Linked DNA regions of Homo sapiens. The protein of the gene in region 1 purifies or fractionates together with the protein of each later gene. This does not show direct contact. Each region holds a gene or a part of one and is shown on either strand. Other genes may lie near its edges. The genes, in order: ZRANB2, RSBN1L, LUC7L2 and PLD1.

Region 1 (8,009 bases):
CAGGATAAAGGATGTCTGCAGACACACATACCTTTTTCAAGTGCTCTCCACTAGAGGTGGTTCCTTGGTCTGACCAGTCAGGGAAGAGCCCACATACTGGCTCACACAGTCAGCTCCAGACCAAGGATGCATGGGGGGACAGTGGTAGCCCAGAGCACTGAACTCATCCTGTGTCTGATATTAGTGAAAATCACCCTCAAACCACTGAAAAAGCATCATTCTGGTGGCCCAAACTTGTGCGATGAAAGAAATAATGCCATGAAAGAAATAATGCCCCAGCCAGTGGGAGCTTTGGCCCTCCAAGTTGCTCTCCAGGAACTGGCAGGGCCATCTGGCCCTAAGCCACCCTACAGGTGCTAGTACCAGAGATCCTGCTGCACTGGTGGACCCTGAGCATGTTAAGAGGGCAATATGGTCAGGAGGGCCTGAAGGGAAGAAACAAAGAAGCCAATAACATTTTCTTTAGGCTTAGGACTGTCCCACCCAACAGGTCCTGCTGACCTGGCTGGTCCCCACCACCAAAAGCAATAGAACATCTCAGGACTTCCACTGTCCAGGACCCACATAGTACTACATTTTGGCTCCATCCTGCTGAATGGTCCAAGACACTCGAGGGGAATTAGGGCACCTCAAGGAAGGCCAGGTGCAGGACCAGGCTAGGAGCCCTGGTTGCCCAGGTCTAAGGGCAGTATTGCTTTTTTTTTTTTTTTCAGTCTTCTGAACTAGGTAACAGAAAAGCTAGTCTGAGGAAAGAATAACGCATATGCAGAACAAATTCAGCAAAGAGACAGAGAAAGGGTGCTGCTTGAATAGAGGATAGTTTCTTTTAGGATATTTCTGAAACTGCATTCCTGCTCTGGCATTCCATCAAACACCACCTTCTCTTTATAATATGCTCCCCCTTTTTGTTGTTTAAGTCATTTTATTTTTATTTTTGTTACTTGCAAGCAGAGTGAGCCCTAATGCAATATTTAGAGCCAGATTCTTAGCTTTGTAGGTTCAGAAACTCAACTTTACCATTTCCACCAGAGCTAATCTCCTGGGGACCAACATATTAAGAGGACCCATAAACAACTGATATGCATTTCAGAGTGCCAATTTCTCAATCTATAAAGAGAGCTTAATCCAGATGAACAACTTGTGTGGATAAATTCACTCTGGGAATTTCACCACAGTAGGTTAAGTGTGCTCAGGAGAGAAGACAAATTATCAGAGGGCTGTTTGGTGAGCATATAATAAGAATAAAGAGAATGGGTAGAATTTTTCTTTCAAATTAGGATAGCTGAAATGAATTTCTTTTGTAGGAATATTTCTCTTTGAAAAATCAGCTAAAGTCCTTGAACTCAAATAACCTCTTCTGGTCATTATCAGATGTATTCACGCATTTTGTTCATTATCCTAGACTTACTATAGAGGATTTTTCTCTTGACACATAATTCTCCCAGAAAAATTTTGCTAATTACAGTTAGTACAGTTGATTAACTGTTGTTGCATTAACTGCATGTCATCTACCAGCTTTGGCATCTATTATTCCTATTGACCCCATGAAGTCACTATCTCCTCTCTACTCCCAAGGGTGATCACTATCCAAGATTAGTTTGGCTGCTTTTGAACTTCATGTAAATGGAGTCATATAGCATATGCCATTTTGTGTCTTGCTTTTTTCAATTCAAGACTGTATTTGTGAGTGAAATACTGTTCAATAATCTGAGTGTAATTTGTTATTCTTGCTACTGTATTACACATTCCAACTGTGTAAACATATGACAATTTATTTATCTAGGCTACCACTGATAAGCAATTGGGAAGCTTCCAGTTTGGGCTATTTTGAATAGTACAGCTCTGAACATTACTATATACATCTTCAGTGAACATTATGTGCATTCCTGTTGGTAATATACCTAAAAATGGAATTTCAGGGTCATAGTGTACGAAAATGTTCAGATTTAATATATTCCGACATTTTCCAAAGTAGATGTATCAATTACTTTTTGCAATGTATGAGAATTACAGTTGCTCTACATGCTTTCCAACACTTAGTATTCTCTGATTTTTCATTTTAGTCAGTTTGATGAATGCATAATGGTATCATATGGTTTTAATTTGCATTCCCCTGACTTGCAGTACCAACCAAGACATAGAAAGCCCACAATAACCTATCTTTCCTAATGATTACAGTGAGAAACTCAAGACAAAATACCAAAAGCAACTGCCTGAAGACTCTGGAAAAACAAAAACAAAAACAGGTAAATTGGAGTGGAGAATGAAAACCTGGAGAAATGTTCTGTATGTTTGCTTTTCCTCTTTTCTCACAGCTTTTGACCTAAGGCCCAACACCTAGTGAAACTGTGGTGACAGGAAAAACCGACAGAAACCTGTATGTCTTGCCAGAATGGGGATAGGGGGCTTTTGTGAGCCAAAAGTTAGTCGGGGGAATACTTAGCTCCCCCTCTTCTGGTTTTTCTTTCTTTTTTTTAATTTCTCTCTCTCTCTCTCTCTCTCTCTCTCTCTCTGGGCATTGGCCCAAGAGTGAGGCCCTAGGCTTGGGTATCTACAATACTAACAGAAGCTCTGTTTTTATGGACAAAGGAAGTAGAAAAGGAGGCCTTTGTGGTCTGAAGAGTGTAGAGGGAATCCACATTTTTTCTCTCTCTTTTCTGTCACTGCTTTGTCTCAGAATCTGCCCTAGTCAGCTGCTATGCCAGGCTGCTAAAACTCCAAGAGGAACCTCATATTTCTGGTGAGAGGACCTTGCGAGACAAAAGGAGAAGAATGTAAGAGGAGAGAGCTAGAGAAGAGGATCCCCTAATTCTATGTATGAACCTATACAAGTTCTGTGTTCACACCTAAACTGAACACGTGCAGAACAAACACAAAATAGCATAGCAAAACTGAATTTCAATTTAAACTACTGCTAACATCCCCAAATAATCCCTGAGTATTGTAGGTATAGGACACAGCAAAGCCTTTGAAAACCCAGCTGACATGGAACCAGTACTCATAGAAGATGAGACCGAACTTTTGACCTGAACCAAATTGGATCGATTGCCTTCTAAAACAAAAAAAAATCAACATTCCCTAAAGGCTTTTAACAGGACTCAGTCTATGCAACATAATGTTCAAAATGTCCTAGATAAAATCCACAATTACACAGTATAAAAGAACTGGAAAAATGTGACCAACTTGCAAGGGAAAATATAATCAACACCTGCTAACTCCTAGATGACCAAAATGTTATAATACAGATTTTAAAGCAACAATCATAACTAGAGAGTAGTTGAACAATTTCTCTCCTAAACATAATCATACTTGCATAAAGACATTTCAGTCAATGATGAACCACATATACAAAGGTGGTCCCATAAGATTACAATACCATATTTTTACTGTACCTTTATATTTAGATACACAAATACCACTGCGTTACAACTGCCTACAGTATTTAGTACAATAAGATGTACTAAATGCAGGTTTGTAGTCTAGGAGCAATAGGCTATACCATATAGCCTAGGTGTGTAGTAGGCTATACCTGCTAGGCCTGTGTAAGCACATTCTATGATGTTCACACAACAGCACAATTGCCGAAAGTGGCATTTCTCAGAACATATCCCTATCATTAAGTGAGGCATGACTGTATATGCTGTATTCTAAAAAAAATTAATGCATTTATATACCAGAATCTATGCATAAGAATGCTCATACTGGTGTTGTTTGTAATACCAAGCCTGAGAAACAGAAGGAATAAACTGTCACAAAACCACAAAACGGAATAGTATCAGTATACATCAGTGCAAATAAAAGAATTACACCTATACACTTCTACATGCAACTACCTAGGATTAATTTAGAAGCATAATGAACAAAAAAAGAGTACAGAATCAACTATGCTTACACAGCTCATAAAATTAAACATACATGTATGTTAGGTTTTGAAGGGAAGGCAAGGATTAAAGAAAGAGAGGGTGGCTTAACAACAAATACAGGATTTATGTCCAGCATAAGACCTACAGAGGTGGGAGACCAGCTTAATGCCAGTGCCCGTTGCTTCTTACAGGCTGGGGTGATTTATAGGCCTGGGTGGGAGTGGTCTGGGGGGCCATGGCCTGCTTCCTGGGAACATGTTGATAAGGTGTTCCCAGGACGAGGCGGCTCTGGCCCTTGTTCCAGTGGAATGTGGTACTTTCTCCCAGCAGAGTATAAGAGGCAGCCTGTTTCTCACGCCCGAACCCCGTGGAATGTTTCACTTTGACTAAGGTCTGCAAAATGGCAGGGGGGCTTACAAAAATGGTGCAGTTTGGACTAACAACGTACATAAATTTTTAAAAAGCAAAAGAATAAATCCCAAATATGGGAAAGTGTTATCTGTGGAAGAAAGTAATGGGATGGTATCAGAAAAGACACTGGTAATTTAAACAGTGTTGACAATGTCTCAGTTTTAAAATTACCAGCTGGTTCCCATGTATAAGTTGCTTACTTATCTGTTACACCTATTTATGTATATATAAAAATAGGTTTCCAAACGACATCCCATGTGTATGAAATAACAGAATTTTTATGCCTTATTAAAATAATTTCTCTAAACACTTGAAGAGCCCGAGCCGCCTCTTACCCTAAACGAACCCCACGCCCCTGAATTGATCAGTCACTTCCGCCTCCACCTTTCCAGCTCCACCTAAGGAAGCGGAAGTACTTTACTCTTGGGTCCTCCCACCTGTAGGGGGCTCTCCGAGGCTTCTAGTGCCACGAAGGCCTCCTGCCTGGGTTGTCCTTATGGCGCCTGTGAGTTTAGTTCTAGAAAAGATATTTGTATTTTAACTTTTCCATCTAACAAACAGTAGCACAGGCATCTTAGTCTGGACAACAACGTACAAGCTGAATTCCTGGCTAGTTCCCTCATTATCAAACCCTGACACAGTAGTAGGCGCGAGTCAGGCAGTGTGGGGACAGCCCCGAGTTGCCGAAAGTCCCCGGCCCGTTTTCCTCCTGTGAAGACATAGCTGCGGGTGGCTGTGCTGGTGGCGTTCAAGATGTCGACCAAGAATTTCCGAGTCAGTGACGGGGACTGGATTTGCCCTGACAAAAAGTGAGTTCAAGAAGGGTCCTGAATTGGGACGGAGTTTGTTAGTGGAAGCTTTCCGAGGTCCGTCCGGCATTTTCCTTTTTTATGATTTTCTGTGCCTTAAGACGGGTTGAGGCGGCGAACCGCCAGTTCCCTGGCGGGAAGAAGGCTCCCAATCTCCTCACGAGAGAGGTCTTTCCGGGAGCCTTTGTTCTAGATATGTCTTCAGCGTTTCCTCGACATTACCTCCGCAAGGTAGCCTCTCTTTTTAGAGTGCGAGATGGCCTACCTTTTTGCCCCCACCCCCCTCCCCCGCCCCGGCCAGGTTTTAGCGATAGGAAACCTCTCCAGTCAGGCCAGCTTGGTGTTGGATCTCCCCCACGTGACTTTTCTCTGCAGAACTTTACTCTTGTTCACGGAAAATATTGCTTTCTCGCACTCGTCCTTTTGCCTCTTATAGTTCACCTTGTTTTGTATTTTTACTCAAACTTTTCCTCCATACTATTTTCCCCTTTTCCGGAAGCTCTACCCTCTTCGGTTTGGGAAATTCTGACATTTTCTTTGTGGATCATTTCTCCACAAGAATTGGGCTTTTCGCCTCCTTAGAGCCGAAAAGGAGGGAAGAGGCCTGTGTTTTTGCCTACTCAGCCCTTAAGATGCCTGCAGCAGAGAAGCACGTGTGTTAGTGGCTCTGCTTTTTGACATTGTTGCCAAAGCCAGTACTCGACTAGATAGTTAATCAGATTTTTTTTGAAGGGTGCACAAATAGGTGTATCTATTCGGAAATAACATGGAAAATAATTTAATGTACAACTCATGTTCACATAAAAGCCTTTTATTTGTTGTACCTAAGTTAGCCACAAATAGGTTTTGATTGTAAAAAGCAAAAACTTTGAAATAAACCTGGGTTTAGTTAAAATTCTATTACTTATTTAACTGCTAAAAAAGGAATAGAATTTTTTTTTTAATGAAAACATGAAATAACATGGATAGGGTGTGTAAACAGTGACGTGTAGCAAATTCTAATTGGTGGCTATTGATAGTAATTTGATATTAAGATGACCTGAAGGAGTAGTTCAAGCCTAACAAATGATACTGAATAGAACCAAAGTTATATGTTATGGATAGTATTGCTCTGAGTGGTAAGACATTATTGAAAACGTTCAAAAGATTTAGAACAACAACTTCTGACTTTGTTGTTACCTGTAAAATAATGTGCTTTTGTCAGTGTCTTTAATGACAGCACACCCAGAGGTAGGACTCTCAATGAGAGTTCATTTCAACTCATTTACAAATATATGAATAGAATGTTGTTTGTACAATATGTTTAAATGCAGGATAAATTTTCAGAGTATATTTTCCATGCTTAATGGAGTTAAAAGGAATATTTTTAGGGGAAAAACTTAACCTAAATATTATTTAGAGTGTTTCACTTTAGTGTCATCCCATACTTCACATCTGTATTGTATTCTAGTATAATGCCTTAAAAATCAGCTTTTTAAAGTTTAAGCATTCCATGTTATCCAGAGCATTTAACATACTTTTACCAATATACACGTACACTTCTAAGGTCATGTGAGTGAACCAGTAATTCTTTAGGTTTGAGTTTGTTGAGTATAAGCATAAAGTCTTACTGTACTACATGTGTTGAGATTATTGGTTTTGGTGGTTGTGTCATTTTTTTCAGCGAAGTCTCAGAGGTTTGAGAAATGCCCTGTAAAACTCAGTTTTCTTACAATTATTGAATCTTTTTGTATTTTTAGTCAGTACAACCTATCATATTTGGTTCCTTAGCATCCTACCTACTGCATGTAAAAAGATAATTTCATTAAGATCCATGAAGCCCTCCTTGATTTATAAGTTTTTTTCCTCATTGGTCCACCGCTAGGGTTTAAAACTCCCTGGTAGCTTGTAAGTAATTAGTGAAGTGGAGTTAACTCTCACTTTCAACTTTGTAAAGGGATTATAACTAATGATATGTGCTAATGTGAGGACTTGAGGCAGAGATCCTAAGTAACTTAATCAAGATCACATGACTGGTAAATGGAGGATTGGGATATCTTATTCTGAATTTGTGGCTCCAATCAAGTATTTTTCCCCCAGTAAATTGTGTGGAGTTTTTTGTTGGTAACATTGACATTAACATGACTAAGATGGATTAGAAGTTATGAATTCCAGATATGTAGTGAGGACAAGTTAAAATGTAAAATTTTACAAATTTAAATTTTTATAAATGCTTTTTAATCTGTTTTTAGATGTGGAAATGTAAACTTTGCTAGAAGAACCAGCTGTAATCGATGTGGTCGGGGTAAGTATTTAAAGAAGATTCTATTTATACTGTATATGTATCATTTATTTATTTCTCCAGGTTCATATTGCATGATTTTTCTGTTTTCAGAGAAAACAACTGAGGCCAAGATGATGAAAGCTGGGGGCACTGAAATAGGAAAGACACTTGCAGAAAAGAGCCGAGGCCTATTTAGTGCTAATGACTGGCAATGTAAAACGTATGTTTTTTAAATTATTGTCTGCTCTTTCTTCCAAAATAATAGATCTGGCCACTACTTGTTTATATTACAGCTCTTATTAGTGACATTGACAAGCCAGGGTAACCTTTTAAATCCAAGGTATTGTTATTCAGTCTCATCTTTAAGTATAGTATAAAGAAGTTTTAAATTATTCTTTGCATTTTTTAATGGTAATAGTTGTCACTATGATGGATTATGTATACCAGTAAACAAATGCTTATGGTAAGCTCAAAACCAATCGGGGGGTGGTGGTACTTAAAAGTACTAAGGCCTATTACTTCCTTTATTGAAAAATCCCAATTTTTAGACTGTATAGTTAGTGTGAAATACACCACAAAACTCATTTTGCCTGTTTACAAAATAATGTTAGATTCATAAGTTGTGTGCCGTAAGTAATTAAGTCTAATTATAGGTAGGTTTCT
Region 2 (7,025 bases), on another chromosome or scaffold:
CTTGTATGAGGTAGGGGCTCTGCCTTTGTTTTTATGAGAGCCAAATATGCCAGCATTATTCATTAAATACATCTTCCTCTTCCCACCTATCTCATATATTAAGTTCCCAATATACTTAGATCTATTTCTGGACTCTTATTCCAATGATCTATTTGAACTTTATAGTAATTTTTAATATCCTGTATCATAAGCTGCCTCTCACTAATCTTCTCTTTCACTGAAAAGTTTACTTCCTTATGAATTTTAAAATAATTTTATCCAGGACTGGAAGTGTTAGTCCAATTGAAATGCAGAAAATTTTAAAGAACTATCATTTTTATCCAATCCAGAACACAGCAGGGCTTTCCATTTGTTCTGATCTTACTTTATATCCTCCACAAAACATTTTAGTCTTCTTAGTATAGGTTCTGAATATTACATTTATTCTAAAATAGTTTATATCTTATGACATTTTTTCCATCCATCATTACAATTTCTTGTCATTTGCCTACATTTCTCATGCTTTATTTACATTTTAGGTTTTATAACAAATTGTATTAGCATGTATCGCTATTTTTAAATTTATATTCCAATTATGCTCTAAACTTTGCATTCCTCCTTCCTCCAATTTTCAACTAACATACACACCCCAACATACAAACACTCATCCCCTCCAATAAAAATGTGTATACAACATACCTTTTCCTTTTGAAAGGTGACTTTGGCATATCAGCCACAGGGATCATTTGTTCTCCTGGACGAACCCACATGATGGGACCATCATCACTATCTTTTCGACTCTGTAATTTTAGACTAGATAGCGTCCCCCATGGCAGTGTACACTGGAGATAAATAATTATGCAGATTGCAATTATTTTCAAAATGTATCTTCAAGTGTATGTTAATAATAATATTGTTCCCCTGACAAACACACTTTCATACACAGCTTTATACTTAAGCATCTGAAATACATAATATTGAATATATCCCTATATATTGATATACTTTGCTTCAAAAAACTGTTTCAAACACACCAAGAAAATAATTATGCTTGGATGGTTCTGTCCCTATACCCTGCTAGAGGTATGATTCACTATATTCATCATTTGTTATTCTTCCTTCTACCATATAGATCATATGATGTTAACGGACTAAATAAGCAAGTGCTCTCATAAGAATCTATAAAAATGAACAATTAAATTTAAGTTTAAAAACTGGATACCTCTTTGATTAATGATAATTAAAAACAAAACAAAACAAAATCAAAACATATTTCTGTTCAGCAGTTTCTTGAAGAGGTTGTTGGCTTAAACCAGAGACTAAAGTATTTTAAAATGAAAGAACAAGGCTGGGCGCGCAGTGGCTCACGCCTGTAATCCGAGCACTTTGGGAGGCCGAGGCGGGCGGATCACAAGGTCAAGATATCAAGATATCGAGACCGTCCTGGCCAGCACGGTGAAACCCCGTCTCTACAAAATACAAAAATTAGCTGGGCATGGTGGCGCGCACCTGTAGTCCCAGCTACTCAGGAGGTTGAGGCAGGAGAATCGCTTGAACCTCGGAGGCGGAGGTTGCAGTGAGCCGAAATCACGCCACTGCACTCCAGCCTGGTGACAGAACGAGACTCCAAAGAATGAAAGGAGAGGGAGGGGGGAGGGAGAAGGGGGGAGGGAGAAGGGGGGAGGGGGCAGAGGAAGGGAAGGGGGAGGGAGAAGGGGGAGGGGGGAGAGGAGGGGAAGGGGGAGGGAAAAAGGGGGGAGGGGAGGGGAGGGGAGGCGAGGCGAGAGACAGAGGTGAAGGGGAAGGGGAAGAGAAAAGAGAAGACGGTGGCCGGGCACGGTGGCTCAGGCCTGTAATCCCAACACTTCAGGAGGCTGAGGCAGGCAGATCACCTGAGCTCAGGAGTTTGAGACCAGACTGGGCAACATGGAGAAACCTCATCTCTACTAAAGATACAAAAAATTAGCCTAGCATGGTAGTGTGTGTCTGTAATCCCAGCTACTCGAAAGGCTGAGGCATGAGAATTGCTTGAACCTGAGAGGCAGAGGTTGCAGTGAGCCGAGATCGCACCACTGCCCTCCAGCCTGGATGACACAGCGAGACTCCATCTGAAACCAAAAACAAACAAACAAAAAAAGACAGAGAGAGGGAAGAAGGAAACTGAGGGCCACTGTCCATGGAATGTTGAGAACAAAATTAAAAAAAAAAAAAATTTCACCACACACCCCCTTTTCAAAAAGGCTTGTCAAATTTCTTTAGAAACAATGCATTTAGGTTGGGTGTGGGTGGCTCACGTCTGTAATCACAGCACTTTGGGAGGCTGAAGCAGGAGGACTGCTTGAGCCCAGGACTTCAAAGCTAGCCTGGGCAACATAGCAGGACCCCATCGAAAGAAAGGAAGGGAAAGGGAAAGGGAAGGGGAAGGGGAAGGGAAGGGGAAAGGGAAGGGGAAGGGGAAGGGAAGGGGAAAGGGAAGGGGAAGGGGAAGGAAAGGAAAGGAGAAATAATGCATTTAGTTCATGTGCTTTGAAAATTAAACTTGAAGCAACCATTTAAGTAATATTTGGTAATTTTTAAATATAGTCCAATAATAAATGCAACCTAATTCCATGATGTAACTACTAGAGAGAAGTAGAAAAGGAACAAAAAGTTTAAAAGGAAAAGAGAAAAAGGAATGGAACAAGGTTAAAGAGAAAGGGAAGAAAAAGATATATGTACATATAGGGTAAAAACACCAAGCAAACAGAAGTAATAAAAGAAGAGATGTCCTATAGATTATGTGGTATCAGAAATCTTGTCACATTCCACAGCTTACCTGGACCCTGAATTTCAGTGTAGGTTTGCAGCATTGACCTTTGAGTTACTGATTAAATAATTAACCTAACCACACAGCTCAGAGATTCCTCTCTCAGTGGGATAGCCCTAGCACCTCACAATAAGAAATACTTTTTGAAAATCAAGAGGCTTTAAAAAAAAAAAAAAGGAATCTGGCTACAAACTATTTAAAGGGGCCTGTGGTGGTGGGCACAGTGGCTCACACCTGTAATCCCAGCACTTTGGAAGGCCAAGACAGGAGGATCACTTGAGTCCAAGAGTTCAAGACCAGCCTGAGCAACATGGTGAAACCCCATTTCCACAAAAAATACAAAAGTTAGCTGGGCATGATGGCATGTGCCTGTAATCCGAGGTACTTGGGAGGCTGACGTGGGAGGATCATCCAAGCCCACGGAGGTCAGGGCTCCACATTACACCACTACACTCCAGCCTGGGCAGAGAGTGAGGCTGTCTCAAAAAAATAAATTAAATAGAGGGGCCTTTGGCTACATTGTCTAAACATGTTATTTTATGGATGATGAAACTGAAGCCCAGAAAGTTTAAAGGGCTTGCCCAACCCAGATAAGTACAGCCATGGCTAAAATATGGGTGTGTAATTTCCCAGGCGAGTTTTCCTGGAATTTAGTTTAGGAATGCTAAACTGCCATTCCTTTGTCTTAAACATTTGTAGTAGAATCCTTCCTGTACTTCTTAAGTCCTTTAGTACTTAGTTTACAAAGAGCTGATAAACACATGGAACCTAATTTCCTAAAGTGTTAAGAGGTGTTATTTCATGGCCCACCACTTAGCTTTGCCATTACAATTAGAACCTGAGATGTCGCATGTACACACTACACAAGAATTATGTCAGTTTCCCATCTCTTGCTCTCCTTCCCTCCAGTTCAAATAAAACCAAAACGTTTCTATTTCTGAAACAGCCATTCATTTATATTGCATGTAGCATGAAAGAAACAATCACAATTTAGATTACTCATATTGGTTTTTCTTCCCTTTTTTAAAAAAAAAACTCTAATCCCATGACAGATTGTCTCTTACTTTTAAAAATGGTGACTCTTCCAACATGTCAAGGAACTCAGGGAAATAATCTCCTACTTCTTCATCAACTGCTCCCACCAAGCTTATTTGTCTCATTGGGCCAGCTCTGTAAGTACCATGAGAATACGTTCTTTTTACCTGAAGAAACATGGATTTAATTAAAAGTTAAATACGTTCTTTTTACCTGAAGAATATGGATTTAATTAAAAGTTACACATAAGATAATGCTTGCTATCATTTTGTAGCAATAAATTATTATCTCAGAATATTATATCATAATGAGGCAAGCAAAACAAAACTTTACTAACAGTAACAGATAAGGCATTTTAAAAATAAAACTTGCACTAAATCAAGCTATTTTACTTTCTCTAACTATTCCTACACACTGCTTATGAAAACAGAGTTAAGACAAATAAGCATTAATTCTAGACAACTAACATCTCCTTAGAACAGAGGAACTCATTATCTGAGTATTCAAAAGTTGGTGTACCTGCATTTTTCTAAAGTGAAATGAAGTTCATATCTTTTCATCAACATTTTCAAAATTAGACCCTCTGAAAACATTTAACCATCAACAGTGGCTTATATGACTAAAAGGCCACCAGGGATGCTCTTCTTTTTTGATCTTACCATATTAACTAGAAACCAGTTTATATACCTATTATTAACTCTCATGAGAAACTACTAGAAATTAAGAATCACAGCCGGGCGCAGTGGCTCACACCTGTAATCCCAGCACTTTGGGAGGCCAAGGCAGGCGGATCATGAGGTCAGGAGATCAAGACCATCCTGGCCAACATGGTGAAACCCCGTCTCTACTAATAATACAAAAAAATCAGCCGAGTGTGGTGGCCGGCGCGCGCCTGTAGTCCCAGCTACTTGGGAGGCTGAGGCAGGAGAATGGCGTGAACCTGGGTGGCGGAGCTTGCAATGAGCCGAGATTGTGCCACTGCACTCCAGCCTGGGCGACAGAGCGAGACTATGTCTCAAAAAAAAAAAAAGAAAGAAAGAAATTAAGAATCAGGAATCCTAAAATCCAAATCTGCCTTTGCTATCTACCAGTTACATGACCTTCAGAAATCATTTGCGTTCCTTGAGCTGTGGTTTCCTTAACTGGAATGTTTTACAGCAGATTGCTGAAGAAAATTTGATAATGATATAAACTCACCTGCCATAATGCTAGCAAATGGGTGGCATTCAAAGAGCCAAAACAAAGCCATGTGCACCTCAAGATTGATTGGTAACTACATTTCTTGCCAGCATATTTAAATCCTGACAAAGAAACCTATGTGTTTTCATATACTAACACTAGTAAACAAGCTGAGTCTGTCTTCAAGCGAAACAACTCGTTTTGATAACCAAATTATAAGCAAAACTGTAATTGTCTCTTTCTCTGGATTAGCCTTTGTGGACAACAAATTTAGGAGACCAATTTGTCCCAGTTTGCCCAGGACTATCAGTCTTAAAACTGAAAGTCTTGTATTTCAGGCAAACATGGATGGTCAACTTTTATCACATCACAGACACAGATTATAAAAGATAGTCACATCAAAAGTTGAATCCTTACAATCATAGCTGGTAAGAGTATCACAACGTAACAAAGTAAACCCCAACCCACATGTTTTCATACAAAATCATTTAAGGAAGAGAATCTCATTTGTTATTATAATCAGCAAAGCAGTTTAATAATGACATTAATTCTTTAATAAATTCACCAGATTTCTAAGCCTAAATTTTCCTAAACTGTTACAAATTGACTTCTCAGAACCACAAACCATTCCTACAAGTTAGAAAATTAAGGGCCTGTAAGCCCAGCACTTTGAGAAGTGGGAGGATATCTCCAGCCTGGCAGGTCCAGGCTGCAGTGAGCTGTCATCAGGCCACTGCACTCCAGCCTGGGCAACAGAGCGAGATCCTGTCTCAAAAAAACAAACAAATATAAGAACAGCTGGGGCTTATGCCCCCATTGTATGCTCATTGTCTCATCTTTTTCCTGTCGCCTAAAAATTCCTATCATCTCCAATATCAAGAGAGCTAACAGTTAAAGCCTAACTCTACAACAGTCTTCAGGCTCTAGATGCATTAATAGCAGCACAGTAAGAAATTCAGTCTATGCACCTCTGTAATGCAGTCTATCAAAGAAGCTAAGGGTATCAATCTCAACTCTAGCACATTTACCAGAATAGAACACATCAAGTCTGTTAAGTGATTCTGAGATTCTGAGTTTTGTGTCTGCAAATGACCATAAGGGGTTTTGAGAGACGATAACCATTTAGAAAGTGAAATCAAACAACTGATATTGTAAAACACAAATTTTCCAAGTGCTTTGAAATATATCTAAAAAGTCAAATTAGAGTTAGGGGTGGTGACACGAAACTGTAATCCCAGCTACCCAGAAGGCAGAGGCAAGAGGATCACTTGAGCCCAGGAGTTCAAGATCTGCCTGAGCAACACAGCGAGACCAAAAAAAAAAAAAAAAAAAAGTCAAATTATATATATTTCCACCTCATACAAATAAGTACATTTTCTGTGCATAAATTTCCTTATCTTGTTTAAATTAGATACCTACAACATTTAGTTCTAACAAAGCCATAATCAAGTCCTTGCCACTGAGTTGGTTCATTCTATGACATCACAGTACCAACAATGATCACCTAAATAATTTGGGCAGTTTATCTTGTGCGGAGGGGATGACTGTTAGGAAAGAATTTTCATTAAGTGAATTCTTCTAAAATACGAAGCACAACTAAACTTTCAATTTATCTAGTAGTTTTAAAAAGTCATATTATACATGAAATAAAACCAAAAAACTATAACATTATTAAATTATAGAGAGTAGGAGATAATATAATAATCAGAAAACCGGAACCAATTGTTAACACAGTCCTTGTAGAGTAAAATTTATGTATTTAAATGTGAGTAAAAACATGTATCATTGAGTAACAGGAAAAAATTGGGTAAAACTTGGGTGGTAATATTACAGACACATCATATGTTGTGTCATGACTCAAGAACTTTATTTACTAATTTTGCTTTGACCAGATGTTGCTATTTCAGGTTAGAATAATTATTTCATTGACTGAAGAAGTATTACTGACCTAGCCATCTCATTTCTTTCAAATTATACATTTACATTAATTTCCAAGTTTACAAATAATGCTTTTTATTTCAAAATA
Region 3 (7,025 bases), on another chromosome or scaffold:
TACGCCCATCTCGGTCTCCCAAAGTGCTGGGATTATAAGCGTGAGCCATGGCACCCAGCCTCACATAGGAAACTTCTTAGAGCAACTTAAAGTTGTTCAACTATGTTATACGTCTTTCTTATGTTTTACTAAGTCTAGTACAGTAAAACATATACAATTAATTATTATTAAAATCACCTTAAGAAATACTAAAAACAAGGCCAGAATATAAGAAATAAAATATTGAGAGCCTATTAACAAACTCAGCTTGTGAGTGATTTCAGGGAATGGAAAGTTGAGTCAAAAAAAAATAGGAAAGATTTTAACAGCTTTCTGTGGATTTTATTATAGATTTTATGTGGAGTAATCCACAGAATATGTAAGACTAGTAGGTACTAGGCACTCAAAAAATGTTTATCATACATATACTTCTGAATAGTTGTCAAGAAAAAAGCAATTTTAAACATGGCTTACGTTACACAGAAATTACCTGGTTTAAGGGCCATCATGTGACCTGAGAAGTTTTGACAGTTTGATCTATACAGACTATGAATGCTAAACTCTTCTACCACATTATAATCCTTTGTCTATCCTTAATAGATATTCAAGTCCTCAAACATACCTTACCCTATGCCTGCACCTTTTGAATGTTCTCATTAAACCAAGGGAAGTCTTGGAACCTCCTTATTAGTCTGCCTTGCCAAGCTGAAGGTATGTAACAATACATATCTATAGTGCAGATAAAACAAGAATATACTAGAATGTGTCTGCTCTGAAAAAGCATCCCAGCTCAAATAAGTTTAGAAAACAATAAATCAAAGCTAAACAACTCTTGTAATGAAAGGACTTCTCAGAGCCCCTAATTTGCTGATCCATACTAAGGGTATTGGTATTTAAAATTATTTACCTGTAAAGAACTTTTTTCCAAGACACACTAAGCAGAGAAAAGCAATAACCTCTACACATATTGGTTCCAATTTCTTGCTCTGGCTCATAAGTATATTCTTTCAAAACTACCCATATAATCACAGAAAAATGTTGTACACCCACACATAAATGTGTACATATTACCAGATGCAAAAGTTTCAAACCAATAATCTGAACTCTAAACATAAGTAACATAAGTAAACATAAACAACTCTAAAACATTAAGGTAGCTCCATATCCTCTGATTGACACATCAATACCTCCTCTTGGATCGTTCTCTGCTCCTATCTCTAGAACTGTGCCGACTTCTCTGGTGGCTACGGCTGCGGCTACGGCTGCTGGAGCGGGACCTGTGGCGATGGCGTTTCTCCCGAGATTTGGATCGAGTTCTCCTCTTGCGTTCACGTGACATGGAGCGAGATCGATGTCTGCGATGCTCTCTGGACCTGGATCTACCAGACAAGATTTGATTTTGTTTCTACCTTTGTAATTACTATATTTCTCATTTATTAAAGCCTTTTCTTTAAAGAGAAACTTTTTTTCAGTAGTCTTAATGTCAATTATATTCCAAGTCAGCTAAATCTACACTGAATTGCTGGTGTGTTAATAACTACATACTAGAATTCAAAATAAAACATTAATAATTCTCAGCCAGGCGCCGTGGCTCACACCTGTAATCCCAACACTTTGGGAGTCTGAGGCAGGAGGATCGCTTGAGCTCAGGATTTCAAGACCAGCCTAGGCAACATGGCGAAACTCTGTCTCTATAAAACATACAAAAATTAGCTGGACACAGAGGCACATGCCTGTAGTCCCAGCTACTCAGGAAGCTGAGGTGAGAGAATCTCTTGAGCCAGGGAGGTCAAGGCTGCTGCAATGACCTGGTGATCACATCGCTGCAGTCCAGCCTGGGCAAAAGAGTGAAATTCTGTCTCAAAAACAAGACACTGATTGATAATTCTCAGAGAGCAATCAGTAATGTATAAATTTATTATCAGAAATAGTTTTTCAAGTGAAAGCAACTTTTGAACCACTACTATATGCCAGGGGCTATATTATCTAGATTTGTTATGAATTTAATTGCACTTAAATATCTTGAACATTTTTGTATCCTCTAGAAATTAAATATGTACCTGACAGACCTGGACAGAAGGGAAGAGAAGAGATGAGGAAGAATACGTCAGGACAAATTACTCTTTGTCTGAATTAGAAAGGTGAGATAACCATAGAAGTAAGTTTTTAATGCCCACAATATGCATGTCTAGTCACAGTGTAATCAAAACAGAGTAAGGGCCAGGGGTAGTAGCTCACGCCTTTAATCCCAGCACTTTGGGAGGCTAAGGAAGGATGATCACCCAAGCCCAGGAAGTCAAGGCTACAGGGAGCTGTGTTCACACCACTGCATTCCAGCCTGGGCAATAGAGAGCAAGACAAAACAAACACAGTAAGACAGTTCTCTATTCAAGGAGCAAACAGTTTGGGAGAAAGAACACTTGCGAAAATCATTTTTGAGAACTTGACTCAGATTGCAAAAAAAATGTATTTCTAATGAATACACAGAAATAGAGAACGAAAAACATTCTGAAAAACCAGAAAATATACGATCAAGGTGCTGGCAAAATAAAGACATTTTTTGAAAAGAAAAAAACCCACAAGGTAAGACACTTTTATAGCCTCCACCAGGTCACAAACTAACTTGTGGGGTGGGTGGGGGTGCATGGTGAGGGTGGAAATGGCATGGAGAGGACATAAACGTTTGACAGAAAACAAGGGGAAACAAAGGAATGCAACTTTGTTAGAAGAGTCACTTTAAGAATGATGGAAATGTTCTCAACTGGATTATGGTGATAGTTGCACAGCTTTAAATCTGCTAAAAAATCACTGACTTCAGAGTAAATCATATATATATATATATATATATATATATATATATATATATATATATATATTTTATACCTCAATAAAACTCTTAAATTTAAGTCACTTTAAGAATGTGAGGTTTGCTCATAATTTGATACAGCAAGTTCAAAATCATATTATACATATGAGATAGTTTACAAATACAGTTTATCTTCAACTGATTGTTATGAACGATGCTAAAAGGCATTCAGCTTATGTCAACATTATAGTCAAAGAAAGGTACATGACATGGACGTAGCTTTAGCCACACTTAAAAAGAGTATTTCTGGCTGGGCACAATAGCTTGTGTCTGTAATCCCAGCACTTGGGGAGGCCACAATGGGAGGACTGCTTAATCCTTAAACGGGAGGAGTTCAAGACCAGCCTGAGCAACATAGGGAGACCCCGTATCTACAATAAATTTTTAAAAATTAGCTGGACATGGTGGCACACGCCTGTGGTCCCAGCTACTCAGGACAGAGTGAGACCCTGTCTCAAAAAAAAAAAAAAAAAAAAAGCGTTATTTCCACAGCTGAAAAGAGTAATTCCAAAAGGAAGCAGAGGGAAAAAATATAAAACTCTCAGTGTAAGTTTTATCAAATCATACTTCGTTTAACCACTCATTTTGAGTTATTATGAATGCCATTTCTTCCAATGTATAACTTTATTCATCTTTTTAAAAATTCTAGGTAATTTTTTCATCCAAAAAATATTCACTAGGTATTTTTGCACTGTTCTATACTAGGGGAGGTTGAGTAGCAAGTAAAACAAAGTTCCTGCACTAAACTTAGTGCTTATACTATAGAAAGGGATCTATACAGGTTTGTAGGCAGTAAATAAAGATATGTCAGGTGGTTAAGAAAAAAAAAAAAGATCTATTGCTGGACATGGTGACTCATGCCTGTAATCCCAACACTTTGGAAGGCTGAGGCAGGCGGATCACTTGAGGTCAGGAGTTCAAGACCAGCCTGGCCAACATGGTGAAACCCCTACTCTACTAAAAATACAAAAAAAAAAAAAAAAAAAAAAAAAAAAACTTAGCAGGGCATGGTGGCACGTGCCTATAATCCTAGCTACTAGGGAGCCTAAGGTAGAAGAATCACTTGAACCTGGGAGGCGGAGGTTGCAGTGAGCTGGCATTTTGCCACTGCACTCCAGCCTGGGCAACAGAGCAAGACTCCGTCTCAAAAAAAAATTAAAAGATGTTATTACGTAGAGTGGAAAAAGAGAAAAGAGTGGAAATATTTATACGGAATAAGCAGGGAAGGCTTTTCTGATAGGTTGGCACTGAAGCAAAGCTGAAAGAAGAAAGGGAACAAGTGAATCAGTCATCTCAGAGAGGAGTGCTTCAGGCTGAGGGAACACAGATGCAAAGTCCCTGAGGTGGGAAAAAGCTCAGCATGTTGAAGGAAAAGACCAGTGTGGCTGGAATGAAGTGAGCAAAAGGAAGTAATATCAGGGTCTTACAGGCAGGATGACCAGGTACTTTATCATTCAAACTAGAAGGCTCTGAATAAGTTACTGAATGTAATGAGAAGCTATTAATACATATTCTGGGATAAAAGACATAAACCAGAACTATCCCAGGGCAGTTTGGGCTATGCCAAGCTTGTCCAACCTGCGGCCTCCAAGCCGCATGCTGCCCAGGATGGCTTTGAATACAGCCCAACACAAATTTGTAAACTTTCTTAAAATATTATGAGATTTCTTTGCAATTTTTTTTCCAGCTCATCAGTTATCATTAGTGTATCTGATGTGTGGCCCAGGTAAGCCAAAAGATTGGACACCCCAGGCCACACCGTCACCCTATGTAAAAGCTTTGGTAAAGATGTTAACTTCTCATATGAATGAGATGAAAAACCTTTGGAGAATCAGAGGGCTGATGTGATGTATTTCATTTATTTAAAGGCTCATCCTGGCTGACGTGTGAAAAATAGAATGAGGTGAAGAAGGGGGGTGGGCAAGCACAGAGAACTAAGGAGCCCAGTTACAAGGCAAACATATTATCTAGGTAACAGGACTAGAGGAATAGAAATTAAATTTCTGGCCCAAATATCTAAAGATGTTCTATGTGCAATACTTTATGTTTTCAACAAAGGGACCAGCTTATATTAATCAAACAGTAAACAATAACAGTATCACAGTTTAATGTTTCTACTTATCATGCTAGATCAGAGAAATTCACCAATAATATAAATTAGCTGACACAACTGGCCCCACTTATTAATGTTCTTTAGTTTTTTTAGTGTTTTAGGCAGAAATATCATTGATAGATGTTGCTAACAGAACTGTAAGGTTTTTGTTTTTCTTTTTTTGAGACAGTCTTACTCTGTCACCCAAGCTGGAATGCAGTGGCACAATCTCGGCTTACTGTAACCTCCACCTCCTGGGTTCAAGTGATTCTCCTGCCTCAGCCTCTCAAGTAGCTGGGATTACAGGCACCTGCCACCACACCCGGCTAATTTTTGTGTTTTTAGTAGAGATGGAGTTTCGCCATGTTGGCCAGGCTGGTCTCGAACTCCTGACTTCAGGTGATCTGGCTGCCTCGGCCTCCCAAAGAGCTGTGATGGTATAAGCGTGAGGCACTGCGCTCAGCCAGGTTTTTCTTTCATAACAACAAATTCTCTACTTTTTAGGGAAAACTTCTTGGGAAATAGTCTCTAGAGCTGAGAACTCAGAAAGTTTCTAAAAGAAGATGTGATCTGAACAAGAGGAATGGTAGAATTTGGAAAAGACTGAGAAAGGGCATTCTAGGTGGGAATGGATCCATGAAGAAAGCTCAACGACTGGAATGAGAAGGGCAAGTGAAGAACTGAGAAAGAATGATGAAGTACAACACATTTCCCTGCCTTTCTCAGACAAAAAAATGTATCAGCAACTAGCAAAAACTACAAAGAAAGGTTTCAAACCCCAAATATTAACGCTGAAAGTCAAAACAAAGTATTGTCTTGCTCTTTTAAGGCTGCAAATGCCTCTCTGAAAGCCTTCTGTGATCACTGTATAAAGGAATGGGTAATAAACTCACATAAAGTCAAGACTGGAGGGTATACTAAACATTTTGGTTTTGCTTAACCCACAGTGGATCAATCAAAATTTTATCCAACTATTAACCTACTAATGTTTTCAACAGCTACAACCTCTTAGAACATGTTTCCTAAATGTACCACCCAAATTGATTTTTAAAAAATTAATCCTTTTACGTATCTACTCTGAGCATCTAAATGATTTCAAAAAAAATTTTCTTTTTTTTTTTTTTTTTTTTTTTAAAGACAGAGTCCTATTCTGTTGCCCAGGCTGGAGTGCAGTGGTGCTATCTTGGCTCACTGCAACCTCTGCCTCCCGGCTTCAAGCAATTCTGCCTCAGCCTCTTGAGTAGCTGGGATTACAAGCATGCATCACCGTGCCCAGCCAAAAAAGAAAATTTTTAAAGGACCATTTAATCAATCTATAAAAACTACCTTTGAAAAAGACAACTTCACTACTTATACCTGTCTTATGTAATACACCTACCTTTTTGGATTCTTGCTGTGTGATCGGGACCTAAAAAAAAAAAATATGTATTTTTAGAAAAGTGGCTATAAATAAGAAAACAGTGCAGTGTTACATTATATTCTTCCTGATTTCTAATGTTTACATTAATTTTATAAATACAAGGCGTGTACCTACGCACACAAAATTTTCCAAAAGACACCACAAACTCGACAGATTTCTTCACCTTGCAGGGTTTGCTTAACTCAAGAATACCTGGCTCTTAAAGAATATGTTCCTAGGAGATTAAAACACAGTACAGGTTGAGTACTCCTTCTCCGAAACGCTAAGGATCATAAGTGTTTCGGATTTTTTCTGTTTTTTGTTTTTGTTTTTTTTTTTTTTAATTTTTACATTTTTTGTTGCCTAGGGTGGTCTTGAACTCCTGGATGCAAATGATCCAACCACCTTGGCCTTCCGAAGTGCTGGGATTACAGGTGGCCGATTTTTTTCAAAATTTGAAGTGTCTGCATTATAATTTACTGGTTCAGCATCCCTAAATCCAGAAACCAAAATCTGAAATGCCCTAATAAGCATCTCCTTTAAATGCTGCCAGCACTCAAGAAGTTTCAGATTTTGAAGCTCACTGGATTTCATTTTTTGGATTTGGGATGCTCAACCTACATATCACAACTTGCTAATTTTCCAGAAACCACTTACCAGCTTGGAAAAAATTCTTTTATATCTGTCAT
Region 4 (7,025 bases), on another chromosome or scaffold:
TAAGTGTACATGTAGTGGCATTAAATACATTCACATCGTTGTGCTACCGTCACCACCATCCATCCACAAGACTCTTCATCTTTCTTACAGGGTTTTAATAACATTTTAATGATAATGGTTGTGTTGCAGGCTTTAGTTTTATCACTAAGCAAGGTTTGAGTTCCTTCTCGTAGCTTTAGAGAAATGCACCTTTTAAACTTTTTTTTTTGAGACAGGGTCTCACTCTGTTGCCCAGGTTGGAGTGTAGTGGCACAACAGCCTTGACCTCCTAGGCTCAAGTGATACTCCCATCTCAGTTTCTGAGTAGCTGGAACTAGAGGTGCGCATCACCATCCTTGGCCAGTTTTGTTTGTATTTTTATAAAGATGGCGTCTCACTGTGTTGCTAGGGCTGGTCTTGAACAGCTGGGCTCCCGCAATCCTCCTACTTCGGCTTCCCAAAGTGCTGGATTACAGGCATGAGCTACCATACCCAGCTGAGAAATGCACTTTTAAAAGAGAAAAGGTAAAAAGCCATAGCCAGACTGTTTAACAAATCTTATCTACAGCAGGAAAGACCTAATACATTACTGTTTGAGGATAAGCTTGTGATGTATTTAAACTTGTGTCTAAGGGTATTGTGGGGTTTAGCTGTCAAGAGGAAGGAACACGTAAGGGAATTATTGTTATTGATCATTTCCTCTCCTGAGTATCTATCAGAAAAATAACAATTGTCAGTGTTGTCCTCTATAGCAGTGCAAATAGTACCTATCTAAACTATGCTTGAGCTCAGGTAGTGTTGCCTTTTTAGTAACTAAAAGCAGTGTGTAGCAATTTCCTGTCCATCCCAGATGTTTACTAAAGATTGATACTAGGGGACCCAACACATAAGATATGTCTCTTTAAACTTGTAGTTAGGCTGAGTCATTGTGTTCACAAGAAAAGCTGTAGCTCTGCAAGGTCTGGTTTTGTGTTTACAATCCTTTAAGTCTTAGCACCACAAAATAAAATGTATTTGCTAGGGTGTGGCTAAAAGTTGTTGCAGGGTTAAAATGAGAAACATGTAAACCTAACTTTCCCATAAGCCTGTGACATTTCTGATTACAAAGAGAATCATACAAATCGCATCTTATGCTTCAGTGGGAACACATTCCAGTGTGTTAGTTTCCCTAAATTCACAGTGCAGTGTAAAATCTGGACCCCAGCTGTTTTAGTGCTGGGTTATTAAGCAAAAGTGTATGTTACGTAAGTGTTTCATAGTGTCACAGTGTTTTTTTTCTGTTGTGAAACTTTCTTAATTTTTAAATTTATTGAGCAAACATTACAACGACAGAATAAAATGAATTATTTATTTAATAAACACTTACGTGGTGTTTACTTTGTGCCTTGCACTCATCTAAGCATTTTACAAACATGAATACATTTAACCCTCAGAACAACCCTGTAAAGTAGGTAATCTTATTATGGCCGTTTAATTTATTTATTTATGTTTGTTTTACTGTATTTTATTTTGTAGAGATGAGGTCTTGCTATGTCACCCAGGCTAGTTTCAGACTTCTGGGTTCAAGTGGTCCTCCTACCTTGGCTTCCAAACGTGCTGGGATTCACAGGCATGAGCCACTGAGCCTGGCCTATGCCCATTTTATAGATGAGGCAGTTTGAGGCATAGTGAGATCCCACAACTAGCACATGGTAGAGCTGGGGATCCATCCCAGGCAGCTTGCACCCAGAGTTTTGACACTGCTGTCTGTCTAGAAAAAAACATAACCTGTGATTCCATCCTCTTAACAAACTTTTTTTTAGGTTTTTTTATTTCCATTTCGTCCTTGTTCTTTGACATAATTGCAATTATAGTGCAACTCAGACAATCTGTTCAAGTCCTTTATTTTTCGGAAAACGAAATTAAGGTGGAGCATGGGTATGTCAAAGGGTAGAAGCACTGGGGCAGGGTCCTGGAGATCCTCTGCTGGGCCAGGCCTTAACTCCTGATTGTGAGGAGATTGGGCCAGGGATCCTGGGAGAGTCTGGGAGGCCAGGTGTATTTGGAAGGGGTTGGGTGTTATGTGCAATATTTCCAGAGGGAAGCATTTCAATATTTTAATAATTGTTATGACCATACTAGAGCTAATCTGCTAAATAAGGGCCCACATTATGGCCGACTGGGTCATGGCAGGTCTTGCTTCCTAGGGCTCCAGAATCCTGGATTGCTTCCCCCGTTGCTCCTAATGCCCGTGACCCTCAGCTCCCCTCTGGATGAGGGCAATATTTTATTCTGTACTCAATCATTTTTTGAACTTTTTGGATCTAGAGTTGGGAACCTTTTGGAAGCCTCTGACGCACAAAAGAAAACCAGCCAAAAGCAACATGGAAATAAAAATAACTTAGTTTAGTCAGTTCTTTTGTTAAGAAAGAGAGAGAGAGACTTCTGAGGCCATAAACTTATGAACTTTATATTAAGAACAGGAAAATAAGGGTTCAGAATTTAACAGTGATCTTTTTCAAAGTAGGCTTTTACAGATGGCACATTTAGATGAAGGAGAATAGGAATAAACATGGGGAAAAGGAAAGCCGTAGAAAGGGAGGGGAGAAACAAATGCAGAGACGAGGCATTGGCAGAGGGCCACAGATAGGAAGCAGGGAGCTAATACCTTTGTCAATTCTTTACAAAAAGCCTTGCATCTCAGTGTGTTACCACTGGATGATGCCTTCAAAATCTCATAAGCAGTTGGAGATGATCTTTCCTTTGGTTTATCTTGATGGGATCTTAATGTTTAAACTGTTGCTAATCAACAAAGCATGTGGACAATAAGATACAAGGGAACTCTTAGCCCCTGATTGGGATCTTCATAACAGTCTAGTCTAGTTTGGTTTATGCCACTTTCCATGGGTGGATTTTATATGTAGTGTGATATTAGAATCACTGGATTTGCCATTATTTTTTCTATTGTCTGTCTTCCGTGTGAGAGGGCAAGGTCCTTGAGGTCACAGACTGTGTTTTTGTCATTTTTGTGTCTCCAGTGTCCATTGTAGTGTACAATAGATGTGAACTGAATGAAAGGGTACATGGATGAAGGGAGAAGGTGTAATCCATTTTATTCAAAATACATAGGTATTTCCAGAAAATAAGTCTTTATAATTAACGTTTTACTTATTTATTTGCTCTATGGTGCCATTTAACTATTCTTAAAAATAAAATGTGTAGATGTAGAATGGACAGTCTGTGGCATTTTGGGTAAACAGCTGTACTCACTTCATTGATCTTTTTCTGCCCAATTTCTGATGAAGGAGTCCTTTGAAATAAAGAGTTTGAGTAGGTAGCCATGGGTTGGGATTGGAGATTTATGACTTGGAGCAGAAAAACATTTCCAGATGTGTAGGGCAGTGGTCCTCTGAAGATACAGACCCAAAAGTGAGAAATTTAACCAAAGGGGCTAAGAATAGGAAAAAAAAATGAAGATGATGTTTTAGATATTGTTTTTTAAATGTCACCATTATTCCTGCTTTGGAATAAAAAGAGGTAAGAGGTAAGGTAGGAGTACAGAATTTGGGGATGAAGTATATTTTTGGCACTAACATCACTGTGATGTTAAAACTATTTTTAAAAGATAATAAATACCCACACCTCTGACTTACTAATTATTTTACTAAATTTATTGCTCTCTATGCTATTTATGTTTATTATTTCTATATGGTGAAAATACTGTAACTATTGCACGTCTTCCCCAAACTGTATGTTCTAGTGATATCATGTTGGTAACTTGGAAGCGGCCATGATAGGAATTTCTTTTTTTGAGACAGAATTTCACTCTTGTTGTCCAGGCAGGAGTGCAATGGTGCTATCTCAGCTAACTGCAACTTCCGCCTCCCAGGTCCAAGCGATTCTCCTGCCTCAGCCTCCCAAGTAGCTGGGATTACAGGTGCATACCACCATGCCAGGCTTATTTTGTATTTTTAGTAGATACAGGCTTTCACCATGTTGGTCAGGCTGGTCTTGAACTCCTGACCTAGTGATCCTCCTGCCTTGGCCTTCCAGGAATATTTACACCATCGAAATTGGCAAACACTACAGTTAGGGTTTCTCCTCCACCCGGACCTGGTTGCTAAGCATTTCTCAGCACACCACTGGCTTTGCCCAGGGGGTATATCCGAGCTTCTCCACCCCATCTTTCTTTCTCATTATGACCAAAGAGATTTCTCCTGCACTTTTCTGTCAACCGTCACAGTGATTCTGAATTTGGGGATGTGGTTGGGGAGAAAGGAATACGCTTAGTTATGCAATGTTCTTATCTCTCTGTGCCTATGATCTGGTCTGGTACAAGTCTCAACTGCATTCAATTTAACCCTTGATTCTTCCTTTTGTAGAGATAGAATTCTCCCTGCAACCTCCTGAAGAGCTGGCCTTCCCTCCTTCTCCATCACAGTAGTTCCAAAGTCTGGCTAAACAAAATCACCTGGGAACTTCTTAAAATACAAATTTCCAGGTTCTATCACATATGTAATAAATTTAGATTCTTGAGGAATGGGACTCAAAATAGTATTTTGTAAGTTCCCTTGGGAGTTTGATGATCACCCCATGTGCCTTCTGGGCCCCTCTTGTGGGCTCTTGCTCTCCAGCCCTGGCACCTGTGTACCTTGCTTAGAATCAGGTCATCTGGGCTGCTGGACCCTGGCCACATTGTATGGTAGCCTCGATTTTTATGTTTGAACTCAAATTCTGATCCTGTGAAACTTGGTAATCAGGGGCCACTCTTTGCCCCATTGGCCTGATTTCTCATGCTCATTCATTGGAGCCTGGGTTTCTAACTAGGAAGGCAGCTAGCGTGTTGCAGGGAGACTATCAGAGGAGTCAGGTGTGCTAAGTTTCATTTCTACTTTAGCGTCTGTGTAACCTTGATCAACTTGTTTCTCACCTTTCTGAACTACAGTTGCCTATCTCCAGAGTTTGTTAGGAAGGTTGTTTTTAGAACACATCAAGCTTTGTTCCATCTTAGGGCCTTTTAATCATGCTATTCCCTCTGCCTGGAGCACACTTCTCCTAAGTCTTTGCATGGCTTCCTTCTTTTTTGTCATTTGGATCAATGACAAAATGGTCAAATGTTATCTCCTTGGAAAGGTTTTTTCCCTGACCATTGAAAGCTGCCTCACTTCACAGTCCACATTGCATTGCTTGCTACCTGATCCTGTTCCAGCCTTTCACCTAGGGTTATTTTCATGCTAGGATTCACCACTATCTGAAATTCTTTTTCTTTTCTCTTTTTCTTGCTTACTGGGTTTTCTACACAAGAACTTAAGCTTTATGAGAGTAGGGACTTTCCTGACATGTAGTAGGTGCTCACTAACTACTTGTTGAATGACTACCTTTCCAAGTTGTTATATAAATATATGATGTTAGTGTGAACCCTGGTTCCCAAGGGATTCATTTGTTTTCCTAATTGTTCTTTTCTGACCTCACAGATGTTGCTGTTTTTATGACAATGATTCATTGCTGAGATATTACTGCAATTTGGAACAAAGTGCTGCTCTCAACTGATGAGAAATAAAATCTGTAGCTTTCTATGTGAATGCCTCCTGTCGTTTTCAGAGAGCTTGCAAAAACTTGTTTCAGTTGCATCTGTCATGTGGGTGTATAATCTGTGATAGAATGGATCGATTAAACATGAAAGTATCGTAACATAAATGAGACTGATTTGGGGAAACTCCTGTTTCCTACCTTTTTTGAGTTCTACCGGGGTGGTTTTTGGTAGTGTCATGGGGACTAGGGAAATGTGTATCACTTTGTAAGAAAGGCAGGCCATAGGCTGGGCACAGTGGCTCATGCCTGTTATCCCGGCACTTTGGAAGGCTGAGGCAGGTAGATCACTTGAGGACAGGAGTTCAAGACCAGCCTGACCAACACGGTGAAACCTCATCTCTACTAAAAATACAAAAATTAGCTGCGTGTGGTGGTGAGTGCCTGTAATCCTAGCTACTTGGGAGGCTGAGGCAGGAGAATTGCTTGAACCTAGGAGGTGGAGGTTACAGTGAGCTGAGATCGTGCCATAGCACTCCAGCCTGGGTGACAGAGCGAGACTCCGTCTCAAAACAAAAACAAGAAACAAAAAGAAAGGCATGCCAGAAACGCATGTTGGATATGTTCGTCCTGTCTGATCTCACCAGATACACGGGGTAGGTTTGACTGACAGTGAAGTAATTTTTGCAGATCCATTGCCTGGAAGGCCAATAAAGTTGGCAGTGAAAGCTTTCATCCTGTATTTGCAATAGCCCCTCTTCAGGATGGTGTTGAAGAATTTATCAAGCACAGAGTCTTTTTGGTGCTAACACAGTACTAGGCCTAGGCTAGTGAGTCTAAAATGTGGTTCCAGCCCCACAGCTTATAGTCTAATGCAGTCATCCAAAGGCAGGACTGAATTGTGCAGCAGAATCCTGCCAGGCCTCCTGAAATGGGCTGGCTTTTATAATGATTGTATGTTCCAATTTTCCTTGATAGTGATTTTCAAACTGCTTTGTTTCAGGGCAGTACAGTGGTATGAATATTTGTCTTCCTCAAATTCATATGTTGAAATCCTCACCCCAAGGGGTGATGGTATTAGGAGGTGAGGCCTTTAGGAGATGATTAGGCCATGGTGGCTCTGCCCTTATCAATGAGATTAGTGCCTTTATAAAAGAGGCCAGAGAGGGACCTCTGACTCTCTTCACTAAGTGACGGGTTAGTGAAAAGGCAGCCTCTGGGGAAGCAGGCCTTCACCAGACACCAAATCTGCAAGCACCTTGATCTTGGACTTCCTAGCCCCCAGAACTGTGAGAAGTAAGTTTCTGTTGTTTATAAGCCACCTAGTCTATGGTATTTTGTTACAGTAGCCTGAGTGGACTAAGACAGGTGGCTGGCATTGGAGTAGAGATTGGGTCCAGGGATGTAGACAGCAGACTTCTGGAGCATCTCTAAATACCACATTTAATCAGAGCATCTCATTTAGAAAACATACTATTGTATATTTGCCTTTTAAAAATTATGTTTGGGCCAGGCACGGTGGTTCATGACTGTAATCT

The links.
Region 2: the proteins of ZRANB2 (region 1) and RSBN1L purify together in Homo sapiens (affinity purification with mass spectrometry; 3 studies listed by BioGRID and IntAct, with this or other methods). This does not show direct contact.
Region 3: the proteins of ZRANB2 (region 1) and LUC7L2 purify together in Homo sapiens (affinity purification with mass spectrometry; 5 studies listed by BioGRID and IntAct, with this or other methods). This does not show direct contact.
Region 4: the proteins of ZRANB2 (region 1) and PLD1 purify together in Homo sapiens (affinity purification with mass spectrometry; 3 studies listed by BioGRID and IntAct, with this or other methods). This does not show direct contact.

Annotation. Positions count from the first base shown.
Region 1 is NC_000001.11:71,078,014-71,086,022, reverse strand, and holds the start of ZRANB2 (zinc finger Ran-binding domain-containing protein 2), read left to right. Parts: upstream 1-4,987; 5' UTR 4,988-5,027; coding exon 5,028-5,083; intron 5,084-7,314; coding exon 7,315-7,367; intron 7,368-7,457; coding exon 7,458-7,566; intron 7,567-8,009. UniProt on the Homo sapiens protein: Splice factor required for alternative splicing of TRA2B/SFRS10 transcripts. Binds to ssRNA containing the consensus sequence 5'-AGGUAA-3'. May interfere with constitutive 5'-splice site selection.
Region 2 is NC_000007.14:77,762,457-77,769,481, reverse strand, and holds part of RSBN1L (lysine-specific demethylase RSBN1L), read right to left. Parts: intron 3,988-7,025; coding exon 3,850-3,987; intron 822-3,849; coding exon 679-821; intron 1-678. UniProt on the Homo sapiens protein: Lysine-specific demethylase that specifically demethylates methylated lysine residues of proteins.
Region 3 is NC_000007.14:139,411,871-139,418,895, reverse strand, and holds part of LUC7L2 (putative RNA-binding protein Luc7-like 2), read right to left. Parts: intron 6,346-7,025; coding exon 6,316-6,345; intron 1,435-6,315; exon of another isoform or gene 1,359-1,434; coding exon 1,167-1,358; intron 1-1,166. Other genes in the region: FMC1-LUC7L2 readthrough protein, read right to left, coding at 1,167-1,358, 6,316-6,345. UniProt on the Homo sapiens protein: May bind to RNA via its Arg/Ser-rich domain.
Region 4 is NC_000003.12:171,800,478-171,807,502, reverse strand, and holds part of PLD1 (phospholipase D1), read left to right. Parts: intron 1-7,025. UniProt on the Homo sapiens protein: Function as phospholipase selective for phosphatidylcholine. Implicated as a critical step in numerous cellular pathways, including signal transduction, membrane trafficking, and the regulation of mitosis.